7 linked regions of the Homo sapiens genome follow. The protein of the gene in region 3 interacts with the protein of the main gene of each other region in a pairwise test. Each region holds a gene or a part of one and is shown on either strand. Other genes may lie near its edges.

Region 1 (4,837 bases), on a different chromosome or scaffold from region 3:
GTTGTGATTGCGTCATTGTACTTCAGCCTAGGTGATGGGAGTGAGACCCTTTCCATGGAAAGAAAAAAAAAAGGAGAGCATTAAACACAAATAAAAATTGTGTGCTTACTTTAGGTGTCTTAAGAAGTTTTAATTTATAAGTGTTTGATGGCAATGTGGAAAGTTAAGTGTCCTGAAGAAAAAAGTCAAACATGGAATGGAAAGATAAAGCTCTCATGACATCATGAGGCCATTTCCTAAATAGTCGTATCATAATACTTCTGATTCAAACATCAACAAATAGATGCAGTAGAAACTTGGAAATCTCAGCCATCAGCTTCTTCTTATTGCTATCTGAAACCATTTCCTATCTCTATCTTAGCTTAGAAAATGATTTTTTCATATCAAACTCTAAGACTTGTGATTCACATCTCAGATATTTAGGTTTGTTAGAATGGTGTTTCTTCTCTGCAACTATTTATAAGCAGTGATCAGATGGTACTCAGGAATTTTTATGGGGCAAGCTATGGTAAGGGCTAAGATTCTTTCATTTTAGTATCTATTAACACTTATTTTGGGCTTTGTAATTGTATGATGGGTTGCCATACTGAAGAGGGCATCTTGTTGCCTACTCTTCTAACTTTGTAACTCTAAGGTTCAAGTCCAAGTGTCTCATTGCATTTTTCCTTAATTTACTTTTTTGGCTTCATGGGACAAGGCCAGGCTCTGTTAGCACTAATATTCATTTAGGTGACATAACTGGGGTGTAAACTATTGGCTCTGATAACAGTGGATACTTCATATTGTTGCTCAATTCTTTATTTTCCCCTACTGATATAAAGGTTCATGGGGATCGTTTCACAATTTCTAAGATATTTCTCCCAAAAGCTCAGTGCTTTGGAAATCTTTATTCTCATCCAAAAATGGAAGTGATTTTATCTAAAAGTCTCTTGGAAGTAGTGTTGAAATTCTTATTTTTGGGTAGTAGAAGCAGTAGTTACGAGGGTAGTGTTGTCTTTTGTGGGTGGTGGCACCTGTTGCAGTTGTCTGTATTTAGGGTGCAGGAGTAGGGAGGGCAGGATCAGTTGGAGAATTTACAGGGAAAAATGGAGGTCCAGGTGGATAGGGTCTTGGTTGGGAAGGTGGCTGTGGATAACCTGGGCCATAAGGAGGAGGAAGAGAGTGTGATTGAATTCTCCCTGGACCATAGGGTGGAGGAGGGGATGGTGGGATTCTCCCTGGACCATAGGGTGGAGAAAGGGGTGGTGGAAATCTCCCTGGACCATAGGGTGGAGGATGGGGTGGTGGAACAAATCCTGTTCCAAAAGGAAAACATGGTGGAGGAGGAGGAGCCAGTGGTCCAGGTGGATATGGTCCCCTGGGGCCTCTTTGACTCTCACCAGGCTGTGGAAACAAAGAAGTAAATAATTTTAAATCAGATATTTCACAGTTAAATATAAGGGTGAATGGTTTCTATGGTAAGCAGAACTCTGAGATGGCCTCAAGATTTCTACTCCCTGCTGGCACATGCTGGCCTGACCTTATCAGGTGAGCCCTTTTAAAACAGGTTCTACAATGTGAGAAGGAATCAGAGAGATTTGAAGCTGCAGCAAATGCTTTCCTCTGGGCTTTGAATCAAGATGCCGTGTTGTGGCGAGGGCCATGTGGAAGTACATGGTAGACTGGCTATAGGAGCTGAGAGTGGCCCCTGGCTCATAGGCAGCAAAAAAAATAGGGGCTTCAGTCCAACAACCAAGGGACTGAATCCTGCCAACAACCATGCAAGCTTAAAAAAGGACACTGAGGTGCAGAAAAAAAAAATACAGCAATGGACACACCTTTTCAGCCTGTGAGACTCTGAGCAGAGAAGCCACCTAAGCCAAGCTCAGAGTTATGGCCAAAGAAACTGAGATAATAATGAGTTTTTAAAGGCTACTAATTAGTGGTAATTTGTTATTGAGCAATAGAAAATTGTTAAATGTATCTAAGTTATGATGTATGAACTTCTGTATCAAAGAAAAATGTTTCTCTTTTGCCCTCTGAATACCTAGGCTCTCAATGAAAGCTTGGATAGTATTGACTGGAAAAAATAGATAATGAGCAAAAATCTTATCCTTGGCCTGTAGTGAAGTCTGTCATTCCAAATTCTAAATGGAAATAAATGCCTTTGCAGCATGGGAAAGACACGTCTTTTTATGTCTAATTCAAGAGTTCAGGGTTGTTCTGGGCTTTGAACATTAATTAATTGTGAAACACATGTGAGCAACTATTTTGTGCAATGAGCTAATGAAGGAGCTGGTTCATTCATGTCATGAATGTCAACCTGGCAGTTTGCCAGGGGTACAAACATGTCTTCTATGAATCCACAGGCTGAGTAATTACAATACAGGGGGGGATAAATGTGATCTAAAGGGAAGTGAAATGAATGGAATGAGTGTCTGGGATTTCATGCCAGTGTTTGAGCTCTCCTTCTGGCACATAGAGATAGGGTGAGTATAGAATCCTTTTTGAGTCTCTTTTTCTTATCAGGAAAATGATGTTCATAAAAGTACCCATCTCCTGCGGTTGTTGTCACATCTATTGTGAAATATCACCTGTAAAGTGCCTAGGGTGGTGCTTATCTCAGGTCTGGTTTACATAGAGTACAATTTTTAGAAATGAAAATAGCTGAGGCTGGATATGGTGGCTCATGCCTGTAATCCCAGCACTTTGGGAGGCTGAGGTAGGTAGATAGCTTTAGGCCAGCAGTTCAAGACCAACCTGGACAACATAATAAGACCCCATCTCCATTAAAAATCTAAAAATAGCTGAAAAGTAGTGCAAGGAACAAATACATTAGGGATTTAAAGAGATCAGTTCTGGATAGGAAAATGATAAAGGATTGTCTCTGTGATAAGGAGTTATTGAAAAGAGGCTTAAAGAATACAAAATAAGGAGGGAGCATGCCAAATAGAAGGAAAATATGCAAATGCTCTGGGGTAAGAATGAAGTTCCACTCTACTGACGGCAAGAACTCCAGGTTGCTTGGAGCAGATGGTTTATATAGGGCACAAAACTACATTCACTTCTTGTGGTTCTCAGTCCCTTCACCTATTTGTCTGGCCATTACCCTTGCTAATCCTAAACTTTAGTATTACGGTAAACCATCTTTCTCCTGGATTCCTAGTTCCAGGTTCTTAACAATGCTAGAGGATGTCACAAGCACTGTACCATCAGAAAGTTAGCGTCCTTCAGTGCTGCCTGAAATCCTTTTTTGAGTATCTTACCTTAGATTATCTCTTCCCACTTCCCCAGAGGCCTGTAATTTTCCAAGTTGATGCCAATTTTATAAACATTCTCCACTTCATCCTGAGCTCTCATCTACCCCCACCAAACTGGCTTTTCTCCTGCTTCACCAAGATATTTCAGGCAATTAGAAACGAACTTCCCTGATTTACTGGCCACACAACCATGGAGTCATTGATAGCTAGACAGTTTCTTTTTCTTTATAATTGTTTTCTGAGGGACCTGGCTCTGTCAGTCTTCTCTTTTACTTTCTGCAAGTAATATCTGCCATTTAATTAGCTCATTTTCTTCAGAAAAACACTATCATTTATGTTCAACTCAATTTTTTTTCTCCCTATCCTATCAGCTCTTCATCCCACTCCCTGAATTCTAAATCTAACCACTTCTTATCATCTTTCTTGCTTTCATTCTCATCTGTCATTTACTTTTACCCAAATTACTGTAGGGCCCGTTGATTTGACCTCTTGATTCTAATCTTGCCGCTTTCACCTAACACGTACAGAGAGGTCGAAGACATCATTTGGGAAATAAATATAAATTGATATTTCCCTGTTTATAAAAGATTCAGTTTCAACCACCAATACCCTTGTTGTTGTGACCTCCTTTTCACCTCTTTCCTGCAAAGCAAAGCTCTATGAAAGAGTATTCTAAATTTGCCAACCCCACTTCTCACTTCCCATTTGCTCTTCAACCTGGCTTTTGCCCTTAACATGCCGGTAAAAGTTTTATTCATATCACCAATGAAACAAACAAAAAATTCCAAGGCACTTCTGTGGGACCAGCCTTGCATTTGTCTTCTCTAGCTAGTGATGGTTCAAGTTGTTATGCAGGGTGTTTGACCCAAGGGCTGCCAATCCAAGGACTAGTCAGGTTATGTGGAAGTTCAGGATTTGATTTTTTATTGTCAAGAAAACAAATCCTTAGTATGGAAAAATATTTCACACATTTTTATTGTTGAGACAATTAAAAAATTAGCTGAAAGTACCTTTTCCTAAAGATATACCGATGTTGATCTAAATATTATGTAATGAAAAATCTTCATAGTAAATATCTATTCTTTTCCTGTTCTCTTAACCCAATCGCAGTGATAAGCTCCCTTTCCACAACTGGCTAAAGTAAAATGATGAAAATGATGAAAATACTATATTAGGAAGAAACACTCCCCTCTCAAAGGGCTATAATTAATGTTAATCTCCTACATTATTCAATTTAGCAATAATCCAGCTAAGACATGCATAATTTGAATCTAAATTTATTTGTATTTTAGTGAGATTAAAAATAGTGAGACTTGCTTTGAGGATTAAAGAAGAGATAATGTATGTAATGCATTTGGAAAATTACCTATAACAGAGAAAACACTCAAAAGGTAACAGGCTGAATATGATGACTTACCCCATCTACAAATATGTATATGCAAAGGACATGCTACCCTTCACATTTCCAATGTTCAGTAATTATTAATCATCATTATCATATCAACTGGAAAAAGGCTCATTTCTATTTAAACTGCTTATATTATTGGAAAGCTCTGTTTTTCTAATTTATCTTGTAAAAAGTTACTATTTGTATAATA
Region 2 (4,098 bases), on a different chromosome or scaffold from region 3:
GTAGCTCAGGGGACAGCTGTGAGGATTAAATCAATTAATGTATGTTCAGGGCTTACAATGTCTGACACATGGTAAATACTGATATATATATATATATATATATATATATATATATATATATTTAATTTTTTTTCTTTTTTTTAAAAAAAAATGTTCTTTATTTTTTGAGACAGGGTCTAGCTCTGTTGCCCAGGCTGGAGTGCAGTGGTGCTATCTCAGCTCACTGCAACCTCTACCTCCTGGGCTCAAGCCATCCTCCCACCTCAATCTTCTGAGTAGCTGGGACTACAGCTGTGTGCAATCACACCCGGCTAATTTTTGTATTTTTTTTTGGTAGAGATGGGGTTTTGCCATGTTGCCCAAGCTGGTCTCTAATTCCTGGGCTCAAGTGATCCACCTGCCTCAGCCTCCCAAAGTGCTAGGATTACAGGTGTGAGCCACCATGTTTGGCCAGTAAGTGCTATATAAATGTTAGATATTATTATAGCTTGTGAGTTTTGGCAATGGAAGTTCAAAGGAAAAAGTAACCAATGAGTGTACTAAGCATCTTTCCCTTTAAAAAAAATTGGTTGGTTAGAAACTCATAGGAGTGTACTCATACCTACTCAATCTTTTGTTAAGTACTGCATGCATTTATGATGTTGGAGTATTAGGCTTTTATGAATTAGTTGGATGATACAGAATGCTCAATGATTTAAAATGGCATCTGACTGACTACAATTTAGTTATACAAATTGATTATTCTATGCAAATTTGAGGATGATACTTCTAGGCACCCCCCCCCAAAATATATTGCTCCTGTAGTTTATCTTTATTTGAAAACAGAATATTTTCACTAAAGTGTGTGTGTGAACACTCCAAATGTTTTGAAAAGGCTTTCTGTTATGACAGAGTACAACAGCAGGTATTTTGCAAATAAACTACAAAACAGTCAAACTATTTAATACTTGTTTTATTTATTTATTTATTTATTTATTTTTTTGAGACAGGGTCTTGCTCTGTTGCCCAAGCTGGAGTGCAGTAGCACAAAGATGGCTGACTGCAGCCTTGACCTCGTGGGTTCAAATGATCCTCCCACCTCAGCTTCCCAAGTAGTTAGAACCACAGGCCCACTGCCATGCCCTGGGGTCTCTCTCTGTTGCCCAGAGATGAGGGCTCTCCCTGTTGCCCAGGCTGGTCTCAAACTCCTGGGCTCAAGCAATCCTCCTGCCTTGGTCTCCCAAAGTGTTGGGATTACAGGCGTGAGCCACCTCTCTCAGCCAATTTAATAAGTTTTAATGTTTCATAACAACTGTTTCCCAGGTCATAATATGAACAATTTTTTTCCTATTTCTGTTTTGAAGTCAGGCAAGAATTAGCTTCATTTAAAATGTCCTTATTACATTTAATTGAACATTATCAATTACCTTTATGAAGAATAACAGAGGAACCGTAAAGCTGTATTTCAGCAAAACATTTTAATTATAATTCTGAAACCTAATCAGAAAAAAAATGTATTTAGTACAATGGTAATCCATTAAATACAACTCATCATTGTTAGGCTGTCTCTGTTATGGAAACTATCATGTTATGAAAAGGTTATGAAAAGGTTAGGAAACTATCATGTTATGAAAAGCTAATATTGAATCTTTTAAAAACAACTGAACTTTACCATTGCTAGAGATTTTTTGAAAAGCTGTAGATACACACGTTGGAGATAAAACAATCAAAATTACTTCCTGAAGCTAGTTTAACAGGTTCTAAATGCTAAACAAAAATTTCATGAAATGACTCAGGTGATAAGATTGTAAAAATTTCTTCCTGAAGCTATTTTGGCAGCCTCTAGGGATGTGAAATTCCCTAAGGTGCTCTAATGGGAAAAGTCCTAGAATAAGAACCAGAATCCTTGACTTCTACTCCTGCTAATAAGCTAAGTGAACTTAGGTCAGTATTTAACCTCCTACAGTTTGCTTATTTGTTCATTTGAGAGACTCACACTTTCCTCACTACTTCTATGTATTGTAGCCAGTTTCAAAATGCTGTGTGAAATTTCCCATATTATCTAATCATTTCCAACTGATTATTTTCTCAGTTACTCAGAATTTTTACTACTATCTGTGTTTCTTTGCACACAAGGTGAATCTCCCAACTCAATAAGAGATCATTGCCATTTCACATTTCCCTGCCTCCTGCCTGCATGCACACTGCTATTATGTCCCCTGGATTGTCTTTCAAAAATCCTCATTGTTGTAGGTAAAGAAGGGACCCACTCTGTCTGAGTAACTGACTGCGGAGCCCAGCCCAGACAGACACACATCCCAAGTCTCTGCTTCATCTGTCCTAGAGGAAACTGGCTCGTGGGGAATAGCCACAGTGGGTCTGATGGCCCGGCAATCTCCTGCAATTTTCATAGGAGGTGGCCCTGAAGGAGAGGCTGCCCTGGTGACTGTCACCGGAGGACCCCAGGGTTCTGGATAGACAGACATCCCAGTATCTTCAGGAGCATAGTTACAGCTCGAAAGGCTCTTCACCTCTCGCACACTGTCACTGTATTTCATAGCAGGGGGCTGGTAGGCCTGGTAGGACACTTTAGTGGTGGTGGTGATCACGGTTTGTAGGGCAGGGGCACCTGGTGGTGGAGTCGTGAGGTACCTGCAGGGAAGCTCTGGGTTATAATAAGGGCGAGTGGCCATGGCCTGAAACTGCCCATGGTTAGTCCTTTCCACAAGGCTGGGTTTTCCAAGAGCTGGTTTCCAGCCATGCTGTTTGTTGGTGAAATCAAAGCTTCTCTCATAGCTGCTGTATGAATTGACATTACATTGTAGTGTGTTCAGATGAACCCAGTCTGTGTCATTAGGGATACTGGTGGAATCCTTATAAAGGGTGGGATATGGGCTTGAATTTGTATAACCAGGGTTTGCCAATTCATAGCTGCAAGGTGGCCTAGGCAAATAGATTCTTGGGCTTGAGTATTTCTGGAAGGGTGGCATTTTGTCTCCTTGAAAGGTGGCTAGGTCACAGGTAGCTTTGTAAACATCAGACTTTGGGAAGGAAGGGCAAGGCTGCCCTGGAATAGGGAAGCTGGTTTCAGTAACTATATCAAAGTCTTCTGGATTTTCCAAGGGAGGTATGTTGCTGAAATGACCACTGCTGTCTTGATTTTCTTCTGCCTAGAAAAATGATACAAACATAGACACACGCTATGTAAATCGTGTGGACACCCTCACCTGTAACAATAGCCTAGAAGTAAGTAAAAACAGACATCCATGTGCTGGGCTCTGTGTTGTGAACATGGCACTGCTCAGGTACGTGATGTAAGCACGTGGTCCAGGGGTTGCTAAGCTTGGGCTCACTCAGACATAAATACCAACGACTGAATGACAAAGGTCCATGGTAGCCAGGTAGGATGCTTCTGAGTGGCAGATGGTCCTGTTCTCACCTATACTGTCTTCCTAATAGTGGAGACTTAGGAGCCACACGGGCCTGGGTTCAATTCCTGACTCTGTCCCTCACAAATTGTACAAGCCACTTAACCTCTCTGAGCCTCAGATCCTTCATCTTAAAAATGGAACTTAATAACAGTAACCTCATTATAAGGTTTCTGCAACCATTAAATGTGTGAAACTCTTAGACCAGTGCCTGGCACATAGGAAGTGCTGGAAAATGTCAGCTTCTGTTATCCTTACACTAACACTCTGCCTGCTTGGCGTGCTTTGGTTGAAAAGCCAAACTGAATTAAATTGCGCAGAGAAATTTTATCCATTCTTGTGGATGAAATAATGGAAAGGACCCTCTCAAGGGTGCACTGTTAACTTCCTGTTGGTAGGCACATATTTCTATCTTTATTACTGTTGCATAATCGCCCTTATATTAGGATGTCAGCTCAGCACACTGACATATCAGGACTGTATCATTGCCTGTAGAGATTGTTGCTTTTTGTTTTAAGGAGAAGGGATTAGAAACCCTGTCCAAATGTTGATTTAATGATATTTTGTTACAGACGTATAATTTTCAGATGAAATCAAACCCTTGTAATTAACGTATGACCTTCATATTTTGCATAACGATCAGCGTATCTTGGGATGAAAATGAGCTGAGACCACTGTGCACTATCAGCTC
Region 3 (4,438 bases):
TCTGTGCCATCCTGAGCGTTACAATTTGCCACAACCTCCAACTGGACCGCAGACACCTCCTGCAGTGTCCACAAAATGAATTATAGGTATCAGGAAGGAAGAGTCTTAGGGGGAAGTGGGAGCTGTGAAGAGGCACAAAGAGTTTCTGGCTTTACTCCAACATGTGAGGGCCATTCTCAGCAACCACAAATTTATTCTCAATGCTTCAGAATCTCCTCCTCTCCATCAAGACTTATGTATCTAACTAGATATCACCCTTTTAATATTCTGAACCAACTCTATCAGTCCTGGATTACAATGTCGCAGGTCTGCTGTTGCAAATCTTTGAAAGAGCATTAGCTCTATTCAAGAGTCTGCTATCTAATGTCACATGGAGCAGTTCGAACACTTAACACAAAAAACAATCAGTAGTCACATATCTTACTCATTACAGAAAAAGAGTCTAGCTAGAAGATTAAGAGAATAAGATCTTTAAAGTTTCTGGCTAACTTGTTAAATTGTTAAAAAGACATTTTTAAGCCCTTAAGTCCTTTTTTCTTAATTATTCCACAATTGTATGGGTCCATGCATTCACTGTAACAGTACTTAATATGATCAACAAAATGTATTCTTCTTAGATTGGGGATCCAGCCATTGTTTTAAATATTACGCCATCAGTTTTGACTTCAATGACAATTATATAAAATTTACTCCAATGCAGAAGTTCAGACAAGTGGATTGAACATATTTGGAGCCCAGGATGAGGTATGAGAGTTGATTTGAAATAAAATCCTTTCAATTCTTAAAAAAAAATTTCCATTTGCTTCTTTACCTTCATAGGCAAGTACAGTAAAAAAATTCTCCACTCGGATGGCAACCTGGTAGATTTCACACCTTGTACAACACAATAATTGACCCTTGAACAATGTATTTTTACCTCCTGTGCCTCCCTAATCATGCTAGAAAATATTTCTGCAGCTTCAAGGAATTGTTCAAAATTAAGAAAGAAGTGCAGATGGTTAATGGGTACAAAAAAGATAGAAAGAAAGAATAAGACCTACTATTTGATAGCACAACAAGTTGATTATAGTTAATAATAACTTAATTGCACATTGTAAAATATCTAAAAGGGTATAACTGAATTGTTTATCACTCAAAGGATAAATTCTTGAGGGGATGGATACCCCATTCTCCATGATGTGACTATTTCACATTGCATCCCTGTATCAAAACATCTCATGAACCCCATAAATATAGACACCTTTATATACCCACAAAAAATAAAAATAAAAACAAAATTAGGAAAGAGAAACAAATGAGTAGAGGAGGGCATCAAGGGGGCCGTGTGAGGGCTGCGGGGGACCAAAAGGACAGAGAGAACTTGACAGAAGACAGCCAAATGCAACGTTTCATATGTCGACAAATCTGAAGATGCATATCTAAACTCAAAGCAGGTGGTTCTCACTGATTCAGATACTTATGTAAATAGATCAAAGCAAAATCAGAATAAAATCCTATGAAGAGTTATGGTTTGCTCCCGCCTTGCTCCTGTCTCCTTAATGGCCCATCATATTGAAGCAAGGATACCCTCTTGAGCCATCTACCCATGATAGTCCCTGTGGGTAAACATTGGCAATTAAGAGGTGAAGACAGGAACTCATTCTCCAATTTTATAGAGAAATAAGATCCTGTGCCCAAAAGAAAATGATATGCTCAGTGACCAGTCGAAACCTGTAGTATCCTTTGTTCCAAAGACATAATACCTTGTTGTTCCCCGTATTCTATTACCAATCAATTTTGGTTTGAATAACCCAGGTAATTGGAATATGCCCATACACCATGCAGACCAGGTCAAAAACTCTTAGACGGAGCCTGTTGTCTCTCATCCCTGAATACCAAAATAGCCACAGTCTTTTGCTGAGTGTTCAGCTTTCAGAGACTTCAAGGTCAGCCCCTACACAGGCTTCCATGACAACATTAGGATTTAAAAAGAGGTAGTGATGTTAATGAAACGATATCTGAAAAGGATAAAAGTCATGTTTAAATCAGAGAACCACTAAACAAAATTCCATTATAGCTAGATCTAAGTGGATCTCATTATAGCAGTCCCAAAGATAAATAACTAAGTGAAGAGCCTACCTATTCCTGAATTAGCTCCAGTGACCACAACCACTTTGCCAGTGAAATCCCGGCCCTGGAGAATTTCCATGGCAGTGGTGCTGCCGTCGTATCTTTGCCGGGTGGTTGGCTTGGTCGGATTATCATCCACAGTAAACGCCAGTCTTGGGTCCAAGTAGGTGGTTCTTTTATTTATATGGCTGCCCAAAAGAGAAAGCAGTGAACCCACAGCAATGAACACAGGCATTTATAAATATAAGACAATCTTATACTTTAGGAAAACCCCATTTTTCATAGACCAAAATGCTTATTCCTTAAACCTGAAAGAACTGGGGCCCACTGAATCTATCTTCTGGCCTCCAGAAGGATCACATTTGTGCCAAAAAAAGATAGTCATCGAATCCTTTCCTTCAGAACTGCCTATAACATACGCTGTAACATACAATAACTATTGCCATGTATCCTTAGATCTCAAAAAAGGCTTCTTGAGAAGGTTTTGGGCTTTTATGTAATTCATGTAAATGTAGCTATAAGATCTGTCAGCCACTCTTTTCAGTAGATTTCAATTAAATCTCTTAGCCCTGTGCAAGGGCCTAAAGACGTAGAGAAGTAGAAAACTCAAAATGATAAAGTCTTAGTTGTAAATAAGAAACCTGCCAACTACCAAAATTCTAACGATTTTCATTTTAAGACTCTGCACTCATACCTCCTACGAGCACTCATTTTGATTTGGAATTGATCTAAATCTTGTAGAAATGGTATTAAAATATACTGGAGGCTGGGCACAGTGGCTCACGCCTGTAATCTCGGCAATTTGGGAGGCCAAGGCAAGAGGACCACTTGAGCCCAGGAGTTCAAGACCAGCCTGGGCAACATAGTTAGACCTCATCTCTACAAACACTAAACAAAATTTCAAGTGTGATAGCACACGCCTGTAGTCGCAGCTACTTGGGAGGCTGAGGTAGGAGGATGATCACGTGAGCCTAAGAGATCAAAGCTGCAGTGAGCCATGATTGTGCCACTGCACTCTAGCCTGGGTGACAGACCAAGACCCTGGGTAACCATTAAAAAAAAAAAAAAAAAAAAGGCACATATGGATGAAAAGAGTACTCCTTATAATAGAATTTACTTTTTATATCTTAAATGTATTCTTGGGATATGAGATAAAGACCTCAGAATATCTTAAAAACTATTAAGAAGCCTCTAAATATAGATGAAATTTCATATTTTAAAAGTATGTGTGTGTAAAATTAGTTTAAAATATATACTCATCTCCCTATAAGTACCAAGACTCAAGAGTAATAATCCAACCTTTATTCTAATTATTACCATCCTCATCCTCATTCTATTTATAACAACCTTAATTTGTGACCCCAATATTATACACACACAACAGAGCAGTTCTATGCTAGACTGGCTCAAACTGGCTTACAAGAGCCAAACGTGACTATCTCTTCCCAATTCCTCACTTCACCTTGGCAGCATGAAATCAGCTATGGCCAAAGTATTTATACTGTGGAAACAAACAGTGGCTTTTTTCCCCCTGAAGACCTGGTGCTAAACATTTACCAGCACCCCACTGCAACAGGCTCAGAAAAGTGAGAACTAGCCAGGGGAGCCAATTTCCAGGTTCCCCCCAAAGCCCTTGCTTACTCCTCTAGATTAGACCAGGAGCTGGCCAAATCTGGCCCACTGCCTGTTTCTGTAAATAAAGTTTTATTGGAACACAACAACGCCCATCACTTGTATATTGTGTATAGCTGCTTTAGCACTACAAAGGCAGAGTTGAATCATTGCAACAGAAACCATATGCCCTGCAAATCCTAAAACATATTATCTAGCCCTTTACAGGCAAAGGAGACAGCCCCTGCTCTAGACGGGAGGCTCTCAAGCTAGGGAACATCAGGATCCCCTGGATGACTATTAGAGCGCAGATTGCAAGCCCCACCCCAGTGCTGATTCAGTAGGTCTGGGGTGGGGGCCTGGGAATGTACATTTTTATTGAATTCCCAGGTGATATTAATGCTGCTGGTCCAGGAACCATGCCTGAGAACTGCTGCTCTTGGTTGATTAATACCCATTTCAGGGAGTAACTTTCCAAGCGTGAATGCAAAGGCAAAGACTGCACAGGAGAAAATTGATTTGACTACATAAAAAATTTAAGAAATTCAGTCAGGTGTGGTCGCTCATGCCTGTAATATGAATGCTTTGGGAAGTCAAGGCAGGAGGATCGCTGAAGGCCAGAAGTTCAAGACCAGCCTGGGCAACATACTGAGCCTCAGTCTCTACAAAAAAAAAGTCTTTAAAAATTAGCTGGGCATGGCAGCATGAGCCTGTAGTC
Region 4 (4,438 bases), on a different chromosome or scaffold from region 3:
CTTGAGTGCCTCTGTGTTAAGCTCTTCTACATACTTTTTTTCGTCGATTCCTAAAAAATCTGTAGTGAGTCATTATTTCCATTTTACATTTAGAGAAACTCAGGCTCAAAGACAGTAACTTGCCCCATACCGCACAATTAGTGACAGACCTGGATTTTGAGCCCAGGCTCTTTCAATCTAAGGGCCCTGTGCTCTTTCTACCAGCCTTTCCCTTTTACTGTCACTGGCAATACCAATAGCTCAAAATGACAAAAATTAAAGTTTTATATTCTCCCCAATAGGATTCCTTAATTGTCTTTTCATGGGCTCTACTCTTTTTCTGAATTTCTTCTGTTGTTCAAACAATACTACCATCCAACGAAGCTCACTTTTCAGTTCTATCAGACATTTGCATTATAAATGCATCCAGCTAAGAGAAGTTAATAAGAGACTAAGAAGCTGTAAGACAAAACTGACAGAAGCAGTAATCTAATTAGTCAGAAAGACAAGACTAAGGTCAGGCAATTCAAAAACCCTTCTTTTTTCCTTTATTAGAGGCCAACTAAGGCAAGGAATATACCTTTTAGATGATCCCTAATATTTACAGATTAAATCCACCAAGATATCTATTTGCCTGTGCAAGAGTCACAGTGCACACATGAAACATCTCTAGTGAATCCAAAGTGGTCTGAGGTCCCTCCGTGCCTTCCTCTCACTGTTCACAACATCTGCTGACTTGTTACCTACAGCCTCCCCTATTGCCAGCTCAAGCAAGAAAACTGAAACCTCCTAAAAAAGTCAGGGTCTGCAATACATTCATTCAGACTAGGTAATTTTACATTTAAAAAAAATCCTTGAGGCTGGGTGCAGTGGCTCATGCCTGTAATCCCAGCACTTTGAGAGCCGAGGCAGGTGGATCACTGGAGGTCAGGAGTTTGAGACCAGCCTAGCCAACATGGTGAAACCCCATCTCTACTAAAAGTACAAAAATTAGCCGGGTGTGGTGGCACGCACCTTTAATCCCAGCTACTTGGGAGGCTGAGGCAGGAGAATCGCTTGAACCCGGGAGGCAGAGGTTGCAGTGAGCCAAAATCACGCCACTGAACTCCAGCCTGGGCAACAGAGTAAGACTCTGTCTCAAAAAAAAAAAAAAAAAAATTCCATGAAAAACAAAAGTTTTTCAGTGCATTTTATTTTAACAAAGTTGATGCTGGGTTAATAATTGTGAAATCTATTTCAAGGATAATCATAAATACAAATGCTTACTCTATGTCAGATCTCATGCTATAAACTACAAATCTACACTATAATCCATTTATTCCTCTCAGCAAGCCTACCAAGTAGGTATTATTATCTTGTTTTACAGGTGAGAAAATTAAGGCTCAAAGAAGGGGGAAAAACTTTCCCTAGCTCACACAGCTAAATAAATGAAATGCCACATACAGATTTTCCTGACTTCAGTACATGCCTTAACCACTAAAATTTAAGTTTTGCTGTATTTTCAGATAGAAATAGGAGGACTTTTACAAACATCCTCCAAATAAAGTTCCATCAGTAATTTACCTAAAAATGTTAATTCAGGTTAAAATGTAAGTAATTTTTACCATACTATGAGAGAATTAACAAATGTAATTTGGCTAAATTTTATATTATAGAAAAGCTGCATGAAGAGCCCAGGTATTACAGGCACTGTGCATTACAGATTAAGATAACAGCATTAATGATTCCAGCCATCTTGACCATATATTAAAGAAAACATTCTTTAGATATCTAAAATCCCACATGGATATAAGCAACAACCAATTGTTCTAAGGACAAGAATAATTTATAGAAATGAAATGCCCATCCAGTGGACCCGGGGTTCAGTCTCACCTCATGCACTTCAGTGTCTTTGTATATGTAGCTAGCTATACCTACAGCATTATCTCAACTTACACCTTCCACTCATCCATCATGACCAAGGTTAACCTCCTCCTCTTACCCCTTTAAAGCCCCTAAACCTCCATCTCCTACCCCTTTAAAGCCCCTAAACCTCCATCTCTTTTCCCTAAGCAAAGTGAAATCATTTCCCTAGTCTGCTTACACTGGTACACCTTTTATTATTAGAGTGCCTATTAAATTTAAATCTTCACCATACATAGTGATTTCCCTTAGCAACTTCAATTGTTTGAGCAACTTCAGAAAGGTAGATTAAAAACAAAACAAAACAGGACTTGCGAATAAACCCAGCCCTTACTACTGTGTGATCTTGGGCATTTATTTGTCCAGCAATCTTCATATATCTCACACATAAAATGGGGTAACACCTAGCAAAATATCCGACAGATAAAGCCACCTTCCCCCTAACCAAAATGTGTGTAAACTGTCTTTGATGTTTTGTAATGAAAGACATTTCCTACAACTGATTTATAACATGCTTCCTGAACTGATTCAAAAACTAGTGACAAGGTTCCTCATTGGAAAATCAGACTGACTGTCACTCAATAGGTTATACAGCATGGGCAACAGACCTGTAATTTATTACTCAATGTTCTGAGCACTAAGGTACTAAACAGTGCCCAAAGAGAAAGGAAAGTCAACTTTTTATTACTTTGAAATGGAAACTGAGTTCAAGTCTCTAATAAAAAGATCCGAGTCTGCAGTTTGCAATAGTGGCCTACTGAACCTCACTGCATAAACTAAAGTTTGTTCATTCTCTCTCTCCTTAAACTGCTAATTTATGGCTATGGCAGGCAGAATAATGGTCTCTCAAAGATAACCACATCCTAATCCTGGAAACCTGTGAGTATTAGTTTACACAACAAAAGAGAATTAAGGCTGCTAATCAGCCGACCTTAAAATAGGGAGATTATCCTGGATTATCTAGGTGGGCCCAATGTCATCAATCACAGGGTTCTTACCAAGAGGCAAGGAAGGATATGTGATGAATGCCAGGAGGGTCGAAGTGATGTGATATAAGAACTAGACTTGCCTTTGCTGGCTTTGGAGATGAAAGAAGGGGCCAAGAGCAGCCTCTAGAAGCTGGAAAAGCCAAGAAAAGACATTCACCTCTAGAGCCTCCAAAAAGGAATGAAGCTCGGGCTACACTTTAATTTTAGCCCACTGAGACCTGTGTCACTTTTAACCTACAGAACTGTAAGGTTAAAAATATAATGTTTTATGCCACAAAGTTTTGTGGAAATTTGTTACAGCAGGAATAAAAAACTAAATGTTTTGGGGTGTTTTTCCTACATTAACTTCTTTAGAGTCCTTTGAGTCACAATGGAGATACACTGGGACATTACAAAATCAAGTTTAAGAATCTCTAATGGAATGGGGAAAACATTTCATTGTACAAAACTTAAAATTTGGAAGGAAAAGTACCACCACACAAGATGGCATACTTCTAGTATGGCTAAGTAGACACTGTCAGGGCAAACCACTGAATAATAACTATAAACTCTGGACAAAATATTTTATAAAAACAAAAGCTTTCTGAAGGCACTGGGGAACAACCAAACAGGCAGACACAGAAGGGGAGTCTACATTCATAAAAAACCAATGAGGTTTTTGTTTTTTCTTCACATCTTTTAGCCTGAAGGCAGGCCTCAGTGAGAGTTTGGAACAACAGACATGGTAAAGTGGGAAATCCTAGAAAAGGAAGAGCCAGAAAGGGGGAGGGAGCCCTATACATTCTGTATATAAATTCTACGGAAATCTCTGGCTGAACCCTGAACCATGCATGTACATGCTGCAGACTCCAAGGAGCCTAGCTAAAAGAACGGAACCAATATTTGATCTGCTGCCCACAAGGGATATGGATAGCAACAACAAAACACACTATTTGGAGGAATAAAACAGGATCTAGAGCCTCTACAACGTATCATTCACAAAATTCAGCATACAATCCAAAATTGTTCAACATATGGGAAACAAACAAAAAAGGAAAACACATTTTCAAGAAAAAAATCAACTAAGATTACCAGACACAAACTTCAGGACAGCTATAATCATGCCTAAAGACATAAAGGAAAATATCCTCGATGAATGAAAAAATACACAATACAGATGGGTCGCTGACTTACAATTGCCTGTCTTGCAAATTCCCAACTTTACAACTGTATGAAAATGATAAGTATTCAGCATGCTCCTCGATTAAGTCCAGATAACCCCACTGTAAACTGAAATTTACATACTTTCAATTTACAATGGGTTTAATCAGGATGTCATCTCATTGTAAGTAAAGGAGCATCTGTAATTGAAAATGCCACCACAACCCTCTCACCTTCGAAACTACAATAGCAGCTTGGGAATGAGGCAGTGATAAGTTCTAAAGTGGCATCAACATTACAGAAAAACCATGGGCAATTACTGAAGAAGGGAATAAACTTATTCTGATTATCTATTACTCCATAATTTATAACTTTTAGTCAATTACTACAATCACCTATGAGGTATTATCTCAGTTTACAGAAAAGAA
Region 5 (4,438 bases), on a different chromosome or scaffold from region 3:
TACATATTTATTTTCATATAAGCATAAACACCATAAGCATGTATATGTATGAATATTAAAATTGCTTTAAATTTAGCATGATGCTTGGAGGAAAGAATCCAAAATAATCGCCCCCTGGCACTGGTCGAAAATTGCACTATTAATCAACAGCTCACCCATCAAAGACACAGAAATGCAGACAGAGACTGCAAATGGCCAAGCCAACGTATCACCATTGTTAGGAGAAAACAAAAACCAAATACTTAAACACAGATGGCTCCAGACCAAGTGTGAAGACAGTACATTGGCACGACAAGGGCTAAAGTGTTTTATAAAAGATAATTTAGGAGGTAGGGCTAGAGTCTATCTTGCTCAACAAATGAATCTGTACAGACCTTTGCCTTCAATCCCCAAAACAGATGAGTAACTTACATCATTAATCTCATTGTCTCTCCACACAATACTTTTAACAGTCAATCACAAAGTAGCCTGAGAGAAAGTTTCCCTGGATACTACCAAACACACAGGTTTGCAACAGATGTCTCCATGCAACTTTTAAAACAGATTCCATGTTAAGAAGTTAATATATCCTTATGTATTTACTAATCAATCCAGCTACATGTAGCCTGAAGCTGGAAAGTAAGAGGTATTAGCAAGGAAACCATTTAACTGCAAATAATGCATGGGAAAGCACCCGAAAGAATGTTATTTATAAATACAAAGACAAGCGCAATAGTACAAGCAATTGGAAAATCCCTACCTGGAAGCAACCCAAAGCAGTGCTTCTATCTGGAATATCTGGAATACATGGCACTAATAAATGTGAGCTCTTTTCTCATACCGACCACCCATCTAATCAATGAGCAGGATGCCTAGCCTTGGCAATCTCTTAGTTTTCCCATCTATAAAATGGGGATTAGAGATATGTGTTAATAAATGAAAGCTAACATTCTTCCAATGAATGACATTACAGAAAACACAAATATCACCACAAAATGTAGAAAAACATGTAATTTTATATTTAAAACTAGTTTATAGTCATGCTTTAAAGGCGATATGGTTGAATAGACATGTATTTGGACATAGATGGCTCTGCAGGGGATAAGGAGAGAGAGGGTCAGAGTGAAATGACTCATGAATTTGGGGATGCAGAGGCTCTCTGCAGCATGAAGTCACAAGAGGCTGACACCAAGGTCTCTCCTCCCCTCCACAAACAATTCTGTCTGTAGACTTCACAAGAAGGTGCGTGAGGAGTTTGGAAATTATTTTTTATTTTATACTTTTTGCATCCTTTAGTGAATGCACAGACTGGTGTATTATAAAAAACAGGTATATTAAAATAAAGCATTCTGATGTGCATTGAAAAACATTGATTCTTCTAATATTTTAAAAGGTGACAAATAAAAATGAATACCTTAAGTCTAGGAGGTTATAACTAACATCTTGACATGAGAAAATCTGGTCTAGGCAATAACACAAGTTTGTTAAAAGCTTGGAAGGAAGAAAATTCTGGGGGATCCAGATGTCTCAACTGGAGTAAAAATTTCCCTCCCCAAACAACTAAAGGCAAGTATCTGGGGCAAAAGAGTAAGCTGGCAAAATACTGTAACTGAAATGTGAGAATCCTGACCTTTTCCGAAACAGAGGGTTTCTACGAGGTTACATGTAAATCAAATCCTAAATTAAGATTTCTAGTGAAGCAGACCATTTAAAACACCCACGTTTGAAAGTTACACAAAACAGAGCCCATTTGTGGTGCAAAGAATTATTGTCTAAGTTATTCATTCTGTAAATTTTAATCTTTATCAGTTATATTTTCTTAAATATGTGTTGCAGGGTGCAGCATGCTTGTAACAACTGCTTGCTGCCCTTGAACTCTGAATGAACGCTTTACTGCAATCCCTTTCCTGAAATAGAATCATAGAATATTAGAGTAGAAGATTCCTTAGAGATCAGTTAGAACCGTGGTTCTCAACCTCTGCTACACATTGGAAACACTTGTGGAGCTTTTAAAATATACAGAGGCTCAGGCCTTCACCCCAAACCAATTAAATCAGAATGTCAGAGTGGAAGGGTATCAGTGTTTTTTAATAAGTTCCACAGGTGGTACTACTGGGCTGCCAGGATCATAAACCACTGATTTACCCTGTGTTGTCTGATACCATAGTCACCGACCACACGTGGATATTGAGCACTTGAAATGTGGCTAGTCCAAATTGAGATATGTTGTAGTTGTGAAATACACACTGGATTTCAAAGATTTAGTACCAAAAAAAAAAAAAGAGAGAGAAAGAGAGAATGTAAAGTAGTACATTAACATTTTTATATGGATTATATGTTTAAATGATAATATTTTGGATATATCAGGTTAAATCAAAGTGTTATTAAAATGACTTCACCTGTTTCTTTTTAACCTTTTTAATGTGGCTACTAAAACGTTTAAAATGAAATGTGCAGCTCACATTTGCAGCTCTCACTACCGGACAGTGCTGGGTGAGCCCGACATTCTCATCACAAATGAAGAAACTGAGGCAGAGAAGCACAATAAGCTCAAGGCAGCTCTCTGGGAATTGCGTCCCTCCTCCAGTCTCAGGCTGCTCATTGTTGCAGAGCCACGAATGGACAGAGCTTGTTATGCCATCAATCTAATTTCAACTCTTCTTCCCCCCTTTTGTTTTGCTAATTGTTTCTTCTAAGATTTGATATAAAAATCTATTTTCCTTATGGAAAAATATCTCTGCTCTGCTGTGTACACATTTGTGACTTGTTACTGCAGGATTATTCATCAAGGCAGAGTAGTTGAAATGGATGTTAAAGAATGAATCTAGGGAAACACTACCTGAAGGAAAATGCAGAGAATAGACAAAGAGAACATTTTGTCATGCTGTAGTTTAGAAAATGACCCTGGAGGCCCCCAGCGTTCTGACAGTCACCTTCGACACAGGATCATTCCCTGATATGATTTTAGAAGCTTGAGCCTATAATATTGTTTCTCCTCCTAGGAGTCAGTGTTTTTCTGCACAATGTTGTCATTGCAGTGAGGCAAATCAGACCCTTCATGATGGTGCACCACACCATAGCTAGATACCCTGGTGGAAACGGACTTTATCCCAATGCCTTCTACTGTCTGATGCATGAATTAATACCTGGCCAGTCAGAAGCCAACTTACTTAAAGGAGAAGATCTTGTTTTGATAAAGTGAAATGGTCCTACCAGATCTGGCAAATAGAGATTACATGTATTTCTTCTAATAGTCAGCTAATTCAAACAAAAACAAAAATTTTGTTGTTGTTGTTGTTGCATGTATTTTTCCCCCTTAGGAAGCCAACAGAGAGAGGACTGCATAAAACTGGCTGAAATGTGTTCTATTGGAGAAATCATGCCTGCAACACAGGAGCTCCTCAGTGTAATAAAAGAATAAAAAGAGACCTGAATTCTGATATAAAATCGCATGCAAACAGCTGGAGAGGAAACCTGTGGGTGAGGCCAAACAACACATGCAGTAGGTGCATTCAGGATTTCTATTTAGACATTGTTATTCCCCATCTTAAATACAGCACAGACTAAATATCATCTTAAATCAAATGTGTGGTGCTCTAGAGCCCTCTGTGTTGCATGCATGAATTTTTTTGGTTATGATTGGTCAAGTTTTGCCAGTCAAACCTCAAAGAACATACTTCCAGACTCAATTCACTTCTCGTCACCTCCAAACACACTCATATATATCCATCTGGAAAGATAATGTATTACAGACAGATCCTAGGCAAAGGTACACCTTCTAGAGTGAAAACATCACCCGTTTCTCTATTTGACAAAAAAGGTTATTTATTTTAACTTTAAATAATATTTCAGATCCCGTCCTCACAGATAATAGAGAAAAGACAGGTAGTAGAGAAAGTCACTGCCTTGTTCTTGAGACAGTCTTTCAGACCATTTTTAGTCCTGCCTGGTTTTTACTCTCAAATGAAATCTGGATGGTGTGGTTTTACAGGGTATGTCTCATAACAATGATGAAAAAAGGAGAATTTAAGTTAAAATTAATTAAGGAGGCCCTTATTAGAAAAAATAACATTGCAGATATTATATAAGAATGAATGAAATAGAAACTACAGTTTTTATGATTAAGGTGTTCATTCCAAAGATCTGATAAAAATTTGTCTTTGAAAGATTAGTCATCAAAAGGCTTGAAAAGAGTGAAGGATACAAAGTCATAGGTTATGCCCCATTCCTGACAAGGGCATTTATGGCAGGAGCACCCGACCTGGAGGCAGGGACCAGGCTTCTCAGCCTGGTTTGGCTCTCTCTAGCTCTGGGCCTTGGGTGAGCCAGGGGTCTCTTCTGTAAAATGAAAAATTGGTCTATCAATCCGAGGCCCTCCCCTAGCCCTACCATCCGTGTAAAGCCATAAGCCTTTGTAACTCACCATCAGAATCTCTAGGCCTAAAAGAACTCCCTCTAA
Region 6 (4,438 bases), on a different chromosome or scaffold from region 3:
ACAGTTTTTTCTTGACTGTCTTAGTATATATATTTTTCCAGTAAAACTGTTCATTTAGTTTTCTAAAAATTGTGCTCCTTGCATTAATTCACACTAGACTTTAGATACCACAATTAATTAATTTAAAAATGTTAATATTGAGTGCCTATTGTAGTCTAAGGTAGGGGAAATCGCAATGCAGACAAAATCTCCCTCCTCCCAGAGCTGATTCTTTAGAGGTGATGTTTGGGTCTTGTCTGTCTTCAATTGCTGAGTGCTCTGTAAAATGTTTGAGCTTCAAGAAGATGAAGTAACTTGTTCCCACGGCCTTATTCAGGCCCAGCTCTTCTTATCTCCCAATGTACCCATCCCCTTTTTATTTTGTTCCTCAAGATTTCTTACCTAGCTTTTCTGCTTCTGATCTCACCTCCCCAGTTTATTCTTCCCATAACAGCTGGGAATTTTCTGTAAATACTGTTTAAAAGTCACGGAAATTCTTGGCATAGATCTTTAAACCTTTTTCACATGCATAGAGTGACACTCTTCCAGTTTTCTAAGGCACAGTTATCTACTTTCTGTTTACACTGCCATATTACCTAGTTATATCCCTGCAATTCTCTCTTCCACCATGTCAAATCCCTTTACCACTTGATGACTTCTACTTTTAGATTTCTCTGATGCTCTTTCCCATCTCTGCAATAATTTTGATTTTCTTCTGTCAAAGCATGCCTATCTCCTCTTTACACTAAAATGTTTGTCTCCTCCAAAAAAAAAGCCCCTTCCTGATAATTCCATGTCTAAACAGTTATTTGTGATTATTTAATTTTCTTCAGATTGCCTCCAGTATCTAATACAAATCTTTTTGTGTAGGCTCCTTTTCTCTGCTTACCACTTAAATACTGTTGTTCCTCAAAGCTCTTTTCTTACACAATGCACTCTACCTAGAAAATTCCATTTATATTCATAGCTTCAATTGTGACCTATGTATTGATAATTCTGACTTTTTAAAAAAATAATCAAGCCCTCTACTGAATTATTTACTATATTTATCAAAATAAATGATCCACTGGCACCCTTTATAACCTGTCTAGACCTAAATGTAGCCATTTTCTAATATATTCTGCTTCTTTTTCTATTTTGGTCATTTTAGCAAATGTTATCACTTTACTCTCAGATGCCCAAGACAGAGCATTATCCGAAAGTCTCCCTCATCCCCACAACAAATCACAAAGTGTTACCAACTATACTACCTAAGGATTTCTAAAATAGTGGCTCTCATATTATTGTTTGTCTGAATTATCTTGGATACGTATTTAAAATGTAGATAATAGGATCCTCCCTCCAGGAGTCTGGCTTCAGTGAGTCTCAGGTATTACCTAAAACTCCAATGTTTAACAAACTCTCATACAAATCTTATGCAGGTGGTCTACAAACAGAACAACGAGGAACACTGCTCTAAAAAATTCTCTTTACATTTCCGTTACTCCTGCCCTGGGTCAGGTCCAGGTGTCTCTTGCCTGGGTGTTTGCCACAGCTTCAACACTAATCCTTTAGCTCTAACCCTCTCCCAGCCAGCCTCCACACTGCTGCCCCAGGAGACCTTCCTAACTGGCCAGCTCTTCCCCTGCTCAGGGGACCCTAATGCCTCCCAGGACAAAATCGCAACCACTCAGCATGACCCATGTGGCCCTTAAGCCCGTCCAGCCTCACCGCCTGCTTTCTCCTTTCACACTCTTTGCTCCAGGACTATGGATCTAGTTACTTGCTGCTTGGGGTGCCCCTTATGCCCCTCTACTTGGTCCATTCATTTCCTGTGCCTGGACTGTTCTCCCTACTTCTTGTCATGTGCGAATTTCTACTGTAAGCCTTGGCTTCAGGTCACCCTTCTATGCAGCCATTCCTACCTCCCCGAGGAAAGAGTTCTCTTTCCTGTGTCTTGTCTTTGTATATTATACGTAATTCTATAACCATAACTACCACATTTTATTTCCTATTCCTTTCCTGGAGTTGAACAGAGGTAAGACCTTTAAAAACTGGACAATTTTAAGTTTTATAAAATTTGTTTAAAATTCCTCAAAATCTCACCACCCTAACACAAGTATTTAGTTTTGTGTATTTTCTTCCAGTTTTTCTTCACCCATAAACGTAATGATCACATAACTAGAACATCTAGTGTAATATTATGTTTTTCCCCCAAATTTGTTTAAAATACTTTTAAATGTTTCTGTATCATGTTCATAATTATTTTAAGGGTTTCACAATAATCTATTAAATTAAGGAACCATGGTTATGTAATCTTTTCCCATTTTTGAACATTCAAGGTTTTCTAATTTCTTTTTATAGATATCATTAAATAACAACTTTTTTCTTTTTTGATAATGCTGAGTTATCTACAGAAAAGAATGTGCTTATATTTAACCTCACAGAAATATTACAATTCAGCAATGCAATATGTCTACATTTCTTGTTTGATTTTTAAATATGTTTTAATATAACTGAAATTTAGATAAATTTTATTTTTACAGTATTATGGCATTTTCATACTCTTATTTATTCATGTATGAAAAAAGTTGGCTTTTTGATACATAGTTGGCTAATCACTATAACAAATTAATTTGCTAAATTGGAATAATTATAGTTTGTTTACTGAGCTTATTGTACTTTTCAACTTATCTACTCAGAAGGAAGAATCCATTTGTACTCTTGCCTCATAGTAAAGTACATAATAATACCCCAACTCCCCATTTTCTTACTCTATATTGCATAGACATTTTCTAATATTTAATAACTGGATACTAGCTCTAAATAGGTACATAAATTAGTGCTTTAAAAATTTCTCTTAAGTTAAACATTGCATGTCCTCATTCATATGTGGAAGCTAAAAAAGGTTGATCTCCTAGGCGTGAAAAGTAGGACAGAGGATACTAGAGGCTGGGAACAGTAGAGAGAAGTGGGGACAAGAGAGATTTGTTAAAGAATGCAAAATTATAGCTAGACAGGAGGAATAAGTTATAGTCTTCTATAACACTGTAGGGTGTTATAAGAATAATACAGTTATTTATATATAAATTTATATACAAATAAGAATAATATATAGTTCAGATAGCTAGAAGGAGGATATTGAATACTTCCAACACAAAGAAATAATAAATATTTGAGATGATGGATATGTATCAAAACATCACTATGTACCCCAAGAATATGTACAATTATTACACGTCAATTTAAACGATATTAATTAGGGCTATAACAGTTGCGTTGGAGGTACATCTTTGAGGTTCCGTTAAATGAGAAAATTAAGATACAGAAAAGTGTGTTGAATATACCATTTAATAAAGCATGCAGTTTTCCCCCCACAAAGTCTCTCTCTGAATATATATAAACATACATATACAACCACACACATATTTACTCCTGATGGTCAATAAAATGCACATATGATGTTGAATTATATACACAGAAAGTGAAAATATAGATATTCTTTGGACATCTGCTCTATCTCTCTATGTCTATTAATTCTTTGAAGATAGAGATTAATTCTTCTATTCATTTTGTGATTCCATAGTGTACAGTAAAGACTACATAATAAAAGTTCTAAGTGAATGACAGCACTAAATTGTATCAACATTCACTTTTCCATATGTCCTCTCTCTTTCCTATTTAATAAAAAAAAAAAAACTCCAAAAAGTAAGCAGGGATTGTAGTACAGTGGTTGGAGCTCAGATAGTATCTGTGTATTCTATTGCATAAGAAGGATGTAAAGGTGGATGGGGAAAGAATTAACTTTAACTGAGTGCTTATTATATGTTAGGGACTATTCGCATACCATCACACTTACTTTGCACAGTGACCCTGTAAAGCGAGATTTCTTTCTCTATTTTACAGATTGAGGAAACTAGGGCCCAAAGAGATGTATTTTCTTTCCCAGCATGGTAGTAAAATGGGAAGAGCCATAGGGTTGAACCCAGATCTGTCTGATTCTAAACCTTATTTCTTTTCTCATGTGGTTGATGATGTAGATACAGACCCTATTACCTGCTTTTCTGCCATAACTTTTGTTGAAAGCTACCAGAGAACTTCATTAAAATAATCCATTTCAGAATTGTATGCATTTTAATTGTGCCTAATTGGTTTCCTTCGGTATTATTTTGCTAAGTCTATCCACAGTTTTTCTCATCGTGCTCATTAAGAATGCTCTAATACCTTATTTTTAAATAATATTTAATGTTGTACAGGTGCTGTACCTGTATAACATTATCTCAAAATATTTACATATTTTCAAAAATAGTATTACATTTGAGAAGAATGCTAGGAGTACTTTTGCTAAATTTACTGTTTATTTTACAAAAATTAGACATATATCTTTAGTTTCAAGATATAACTATTTTAAATTTTTGAAATCTATACACTACTCTTGAGGAAATGCTTGAATTTTCAAAGACACTATAGGTTACTTTGA
Region 7 (3,676 bases), on a different chromosome or scaffold from region 3:
TCATTCTCAGTAAACTATCGCAAGAACAAAAAACCAAACACCGCATATTCTCACTCATAGGTGGGAATTGAACAATGAGAACACATGGACACAGGAAGGGGAATATCACACTCTGGGGACTGTTGTGGGGTGGGGGGAGGGGGGAGGGATAGCATTGGGAGATATACCTAATGCTAGATGACGAGTTAGTGGGTGCAGCACACCAGCATGGCACATGTATACATACGTAACAAACCTGCACATTGTGCACATGTACCCTAAAACTTAAAGTATAATAATAATAAAAAAAAAGAAAGAAAAAACAAATTATCTGGGCGTGGTGGTGGGCGCCTGTAGTCCCAGCTACTTGGGAGGCTGAGGCAGGAGAATGGTGTGAACCTGGGAGGCAGAGCTTGCAGTGAGCCAAGATCGTGCCACTGCACTCAAGCCTGGGTGACAGAGCGAGACTGTCTTAAAAAGAAAAAAAAAAGACAAGCCATGAGGGGACATGAGTAGTGTGGTGGGGAGGGCCCGCTGGCCTGCCTGGGTGGGGGCTGAGGAGCAGAGGCCGGATGCTGAGGAGGGGCAGGAGCCACATTCGAGGCCTCCTGCCGGCTGAGGGGCTGGGTGGGTTCCACCTGAGGAGGCGCCACGACTCTGCCCACCCCGGCTCCCATCTCTTCCAGGCTCCTCTGGACCCTTCCCGCTGCCCAGCGCTGGGGACGCCTTCCTCACCCTGCGGACTCTGGCCTCTCTCCAGCCTCCTCCTGGGGGAGGCTGCCTGCAGTCCCAGGTGAGTCTCAGGCACTGTCCCACAGCGCCCAGGTGGGTGGTAGGTTCTCAGAAAGGGTCGTCTTGTCAGCCACCCCTCGGCCTTGGGGCAGCTTCCCCAGAGGTCCCAGCAGCCACACAGGCCATGCTGCGCGGCCACCTCTGGGGCACAGCTCTGCAGGGCCCCACTCTGTAATGACTGTGCCCTCCCCCACCTCCACTTGTCACCACGGCAGCCGCTGGGAACAGTCAGTGGGGATGAACCCCAAGATGAGGGCTTTGGCTGTGGAGGGGAAGGGCACCTCCTAGAGGACTGTGGGAGGACATGGTGTCCTTCCCTCGAGAGGGAGGGGCAGGCAGCCAGCAGAGGAGGCCGGAGGAGAGATGGGGCCTTCCCTCGGGCTCAGACCTCAGTGCCGCAGCTTGGCTGGGAAGGCAGCGAGTGGGGACCGTCTTGAAGACACTGAGGAGGCCCAGGTGTCATGTGCCCAGCACAGGCACGAGGCTGTGTGTGTGGTGTGTGCCAGGGCACTGCAGAGCCGGGTGCCCCTCCCAACTCACCACTCTCTCCCAGGGGTTCAGAGAACGGATGCCTCCTGTGCTGTCTGTGGGGTCCCACCTGGTCCTGGGAAGCACACGTCCCACACTGTCCTGCTGTGGCAGCTGCCCCCCATCACCATGCAGCCCCCAGCCAGGGACACACGTGAGGGGCCTCACCTTGCCCTTTGCACCCCTGGGACCTGACTACGCGCCAGCAGCTGTGTGTCCACCCCAGTTCAGAGCAGAGTGCCCCCAGGTGGTGCACCCGTCTGAGCTGCTCCCACACTCACGGGCAGAGCAGTCCCAGCCACTTCCTTAACCTGTACCGTGCCCACCATAGTGGGGGTGGGTCCTGTGGACAAACGTCTTAGCGCCGTTGGACGTGATGCCGTCTCTGCACTGCAGACAGAGCCCCCACCCCTTATGACAAGTGGTTGCCTCCCACCCTCCTTGCTGCCCAGCCAGGCCAGTGTTGGGCCAGGTTTCAGAGCCCCTTTTTCCCACCGAGTCTCACCATGACGCTCCGGGCGTCATCATGGGCTCCAGGCCTGACCTTGCCTCCCTGCCCCTCGCCGGGCAGGAGCCCTTGTTGTACCCGATGCCAGTCAGTCCTTTGCCTAAGCCCCAGGGAAGCCACTAGAGGCCAGTTTTCCTGCCGGGGAAGCTCGTCCATGTCCCATGTCAGGTGGCAAGGCCAGCTGTGACCCAGGACCGACCCCTCCATCCCTTCCCTCCTCCACTGAGCTGGAGGTCATCTGTGGATCTTTTCCAAGCCTTCCCAGGGACCCCTGGAGGCTCCGCCTGCAGCACGTGGGCTGGGTAGTCACCAGTCTCACGGCCACCCACTCTGATGCTCAGTCTCTGTCGTTTCAGGCCCAGGGTAGCTGGCAGGGGGCCACCCCCCAACCTGCAACTGCCTCACCTGCTGGAGACCCTGGCAGCATCAACTCCAGTACATCTAATTAAGTTTGGGGGATAAGCAGGAAAGAGCGCTGCGTGAGCTGCCATGTATCGCCAGCCGTTGCTTTGTTACTGAACGTGCCGCCGACGACCTCAGAAAACCCAGATGGGTGGTGGTGCCCATGAGCCCCTGCTCCTCAGCCAGGCCCGTGGCGCCGGCTCATGTGTCTGCTGCGACTCGAGATGGCCTGAAACGCCACTCATTCTCCCACTTCAGTTCGTTTTTTTGACAGTAATTTTATGGTAACGCTATGAATTGAATTGTCTGTTCTAGGACTGGGCACAGATTTTCCCATTAAAATTTTTGACTTATTTTAATTCCGATGTCTGTTTGCCAGATTTGTTTTGGGTGGTAGTTGACACCGGTCACAGCTGCAGTGTCATGTGTGCTGTGATTTTGCCACTCACCTGCGCCGCTCAGGCACAGACTCCCAACACTGTCTTCTGTGGGACCGTATCATTCTGTTCTGATTTTAAAATGTCCTGGCTGGGAGCAGTGGCTCATGCCTGTAATCCCAGCACATTGAGAGGTCGAGGTAGGAGGATTGCTTGAGCCTAGGAGTTTGAGACCCGTCTGGGCAACATAGTGAGACCTCGTCTCTACAAAAAAATTCTGCTTTCAGATTTTTTTTTTTTTTGGGGGACAGATTCTCGCTCTGTCACCCATGCTGGAGTGCAGTGGTGTGATCTCGGCTCACCACAACCTCTGCCTCCCAGGTTCAAGCGATTCTTCCGCCTTAGCCTCCCAAGTAGCTGGGATTACAGGTGCCTGCCGCTATGCCCAGCTAATTTTTTGTATTTTTGGTAGAGATGGGGTTTCACAATGTTAGCCAGGCTGGTCTTGAACTCCTGAGCTCAAGTGATCTGCCCGCCTCAGCCTCCCAAAGTGCTGGGATTATAGGCTTGAGCCACCGTGCCCGACCGCCCCCCACCCCAAAATTTTTTTAATTAGCTGAGCATGGTGGCGCATGCCTGTAGTCCCAGCTACTCAACAGGCTGAGGAGGGAGAATCACCTGAGCTCGGGATGTTAAGGCTGCAGTGAGCTGAGATCACGCCACTGCACTCCAGCCTGGGTGACAGAGTGAGACCCTGTCTCAATTATATATATTTATTTTATGTTCGGAGCTCAATTTTACTGGGAATTAGTTTTGCACTTTTTTCGGGTTTTGCTCTATTTGCTCTTTTGCTGTTTTTTTGTTTTGTTTTGTTTTGTTTTGTTTTTGAGACAGAGTTTTGCTCTTGTCGCGCAGGCTGGAGTGCAATAGCGCCATCTCGGCTCATTGCAACCTCCACCTCCCAGGTTCAAGCGATTCTCCTGCCTCAGCCTCCTGAGTAGCTGAGATTACAGGCGTGCGCCACCATGCCCAGTTAATTTTTTTGTATTAGTAGAGACGGGGTTTCACCATGTTGGCCAGGCTAGTCTCG

Evidence for each region.
Region 1: the proteins of WWOX (region 3) and SMR3A interact in binary tests that used the Homo sapiens proteins (3 or more experiments, as listed by UniProt).
Region 2: the proteins of WWOX (region 3) and GCM2 interact in binary tests that used the Homo sapiens proteins (3 or more experiments, as listed by UniProt).
Region 4: the proteins of WWOX (region 3) and NDUFV2 interact in binary tests that used the Homo sapiens proteins (3 or more experiments, as listed by UniProt).
Region 5: the proteins of WWOX (region 3) and CREB5 interact in binary tests that used the Homo sapiens proteins (3 or more experiments, as listed by UniProt).
Region 6: the proteins of WWOX (region 3) and MYOZ2 interact in binary tests that used the Homo sapiens proteins (3 or more experiments, as listed by UniProt).
Region 7: the proteins of WWOX (region 3) and PBX4 interact in binary tests that used the Homo sapiens proteins (3 or more experiments, as listed by UniProt).

The regions. Positions count from the first base shown.
Region 1 is NC_000004.12:70,363,190-70,368,026, reverse strand, and holds the end of SMR3A (submaxillary gland androgen-regulated protein 3A precursor), read right to left. Parts: intron 1,384-4,837; coding exon 1,033-1,383; 3' UTR 869-1,032; downstream 1-868. UniProt on the Homo sapiens protein: May play a role in protection or detoxification.
Region 2 is NC_000006.12:10,871,785-10,875,882, forward strand, and holds the end of GCM2 (chorion-specific transcription factor GCMb), read right to left. Parts: intron 3,150-4,098; coding exon 2,211-3,149; 3' UTR 1,439-2,210; downstream 1-1,438. UniProt on the Homo sapiens protein: Transcription factor that binds specific sequences on gene promoters and activate their transcription. Through the regulation of gene transcription, may play a role in parathyroid gland development.
Region 3 is NC_000016.10:78,112,835-78,117,272, reverse strand, and holds part of WWOX (WW domain-containing oxidoreductase), read right to left. Parts: intron 2,298-4,438; coding exon 2,119-2,297; intron 1-2,118. UniProt on the Homo sapiens protein: Putative oxidoreductase. Acts as a tumor suppressor and plays a role in apoptosis. Required for normal bone development. May function synergistically with p53/TP53 to control genotoxic stress-induced cell death.
Region 4 is NC_000018.10:9,105,389-9,109,826, reverse strand, and holds part of NDUFV2 (NADH dehydrogenase [ubiquinone] flavoprotein 2, mitochondrial precursor), read right to left. Parts: intron 1-4,438.
Region 5 is NC_000007.14:28,415,177-28,419,614, reverse strand, and holds part of CREB5 (cyclic AMP-responsive element-binding protein 5), read right to left. Parts: intron 1-4,438. UniProt on the Homo sapiens protein: Binds to the cAMP response element and activates transcription.
Region 6 is NC_000004.12:119,159,538-119,163,975, reverse strand, and holds part of MYOZ2 (myozenin-2), read right to left. Parts: intron 1-4,438.
Region 7 is NC_000019.10:19,560,605-19,564,280, reverse strand, and holds the end of PBX4 (pre-B-cell leukemia transcription factor 4), read left to right. Parts: intron 1-665; coding exon 666-772; intron 773-2,163; coding exon 2,164-2,256; 3' UTR 2,257-2,568; downstream 2,569-3,676.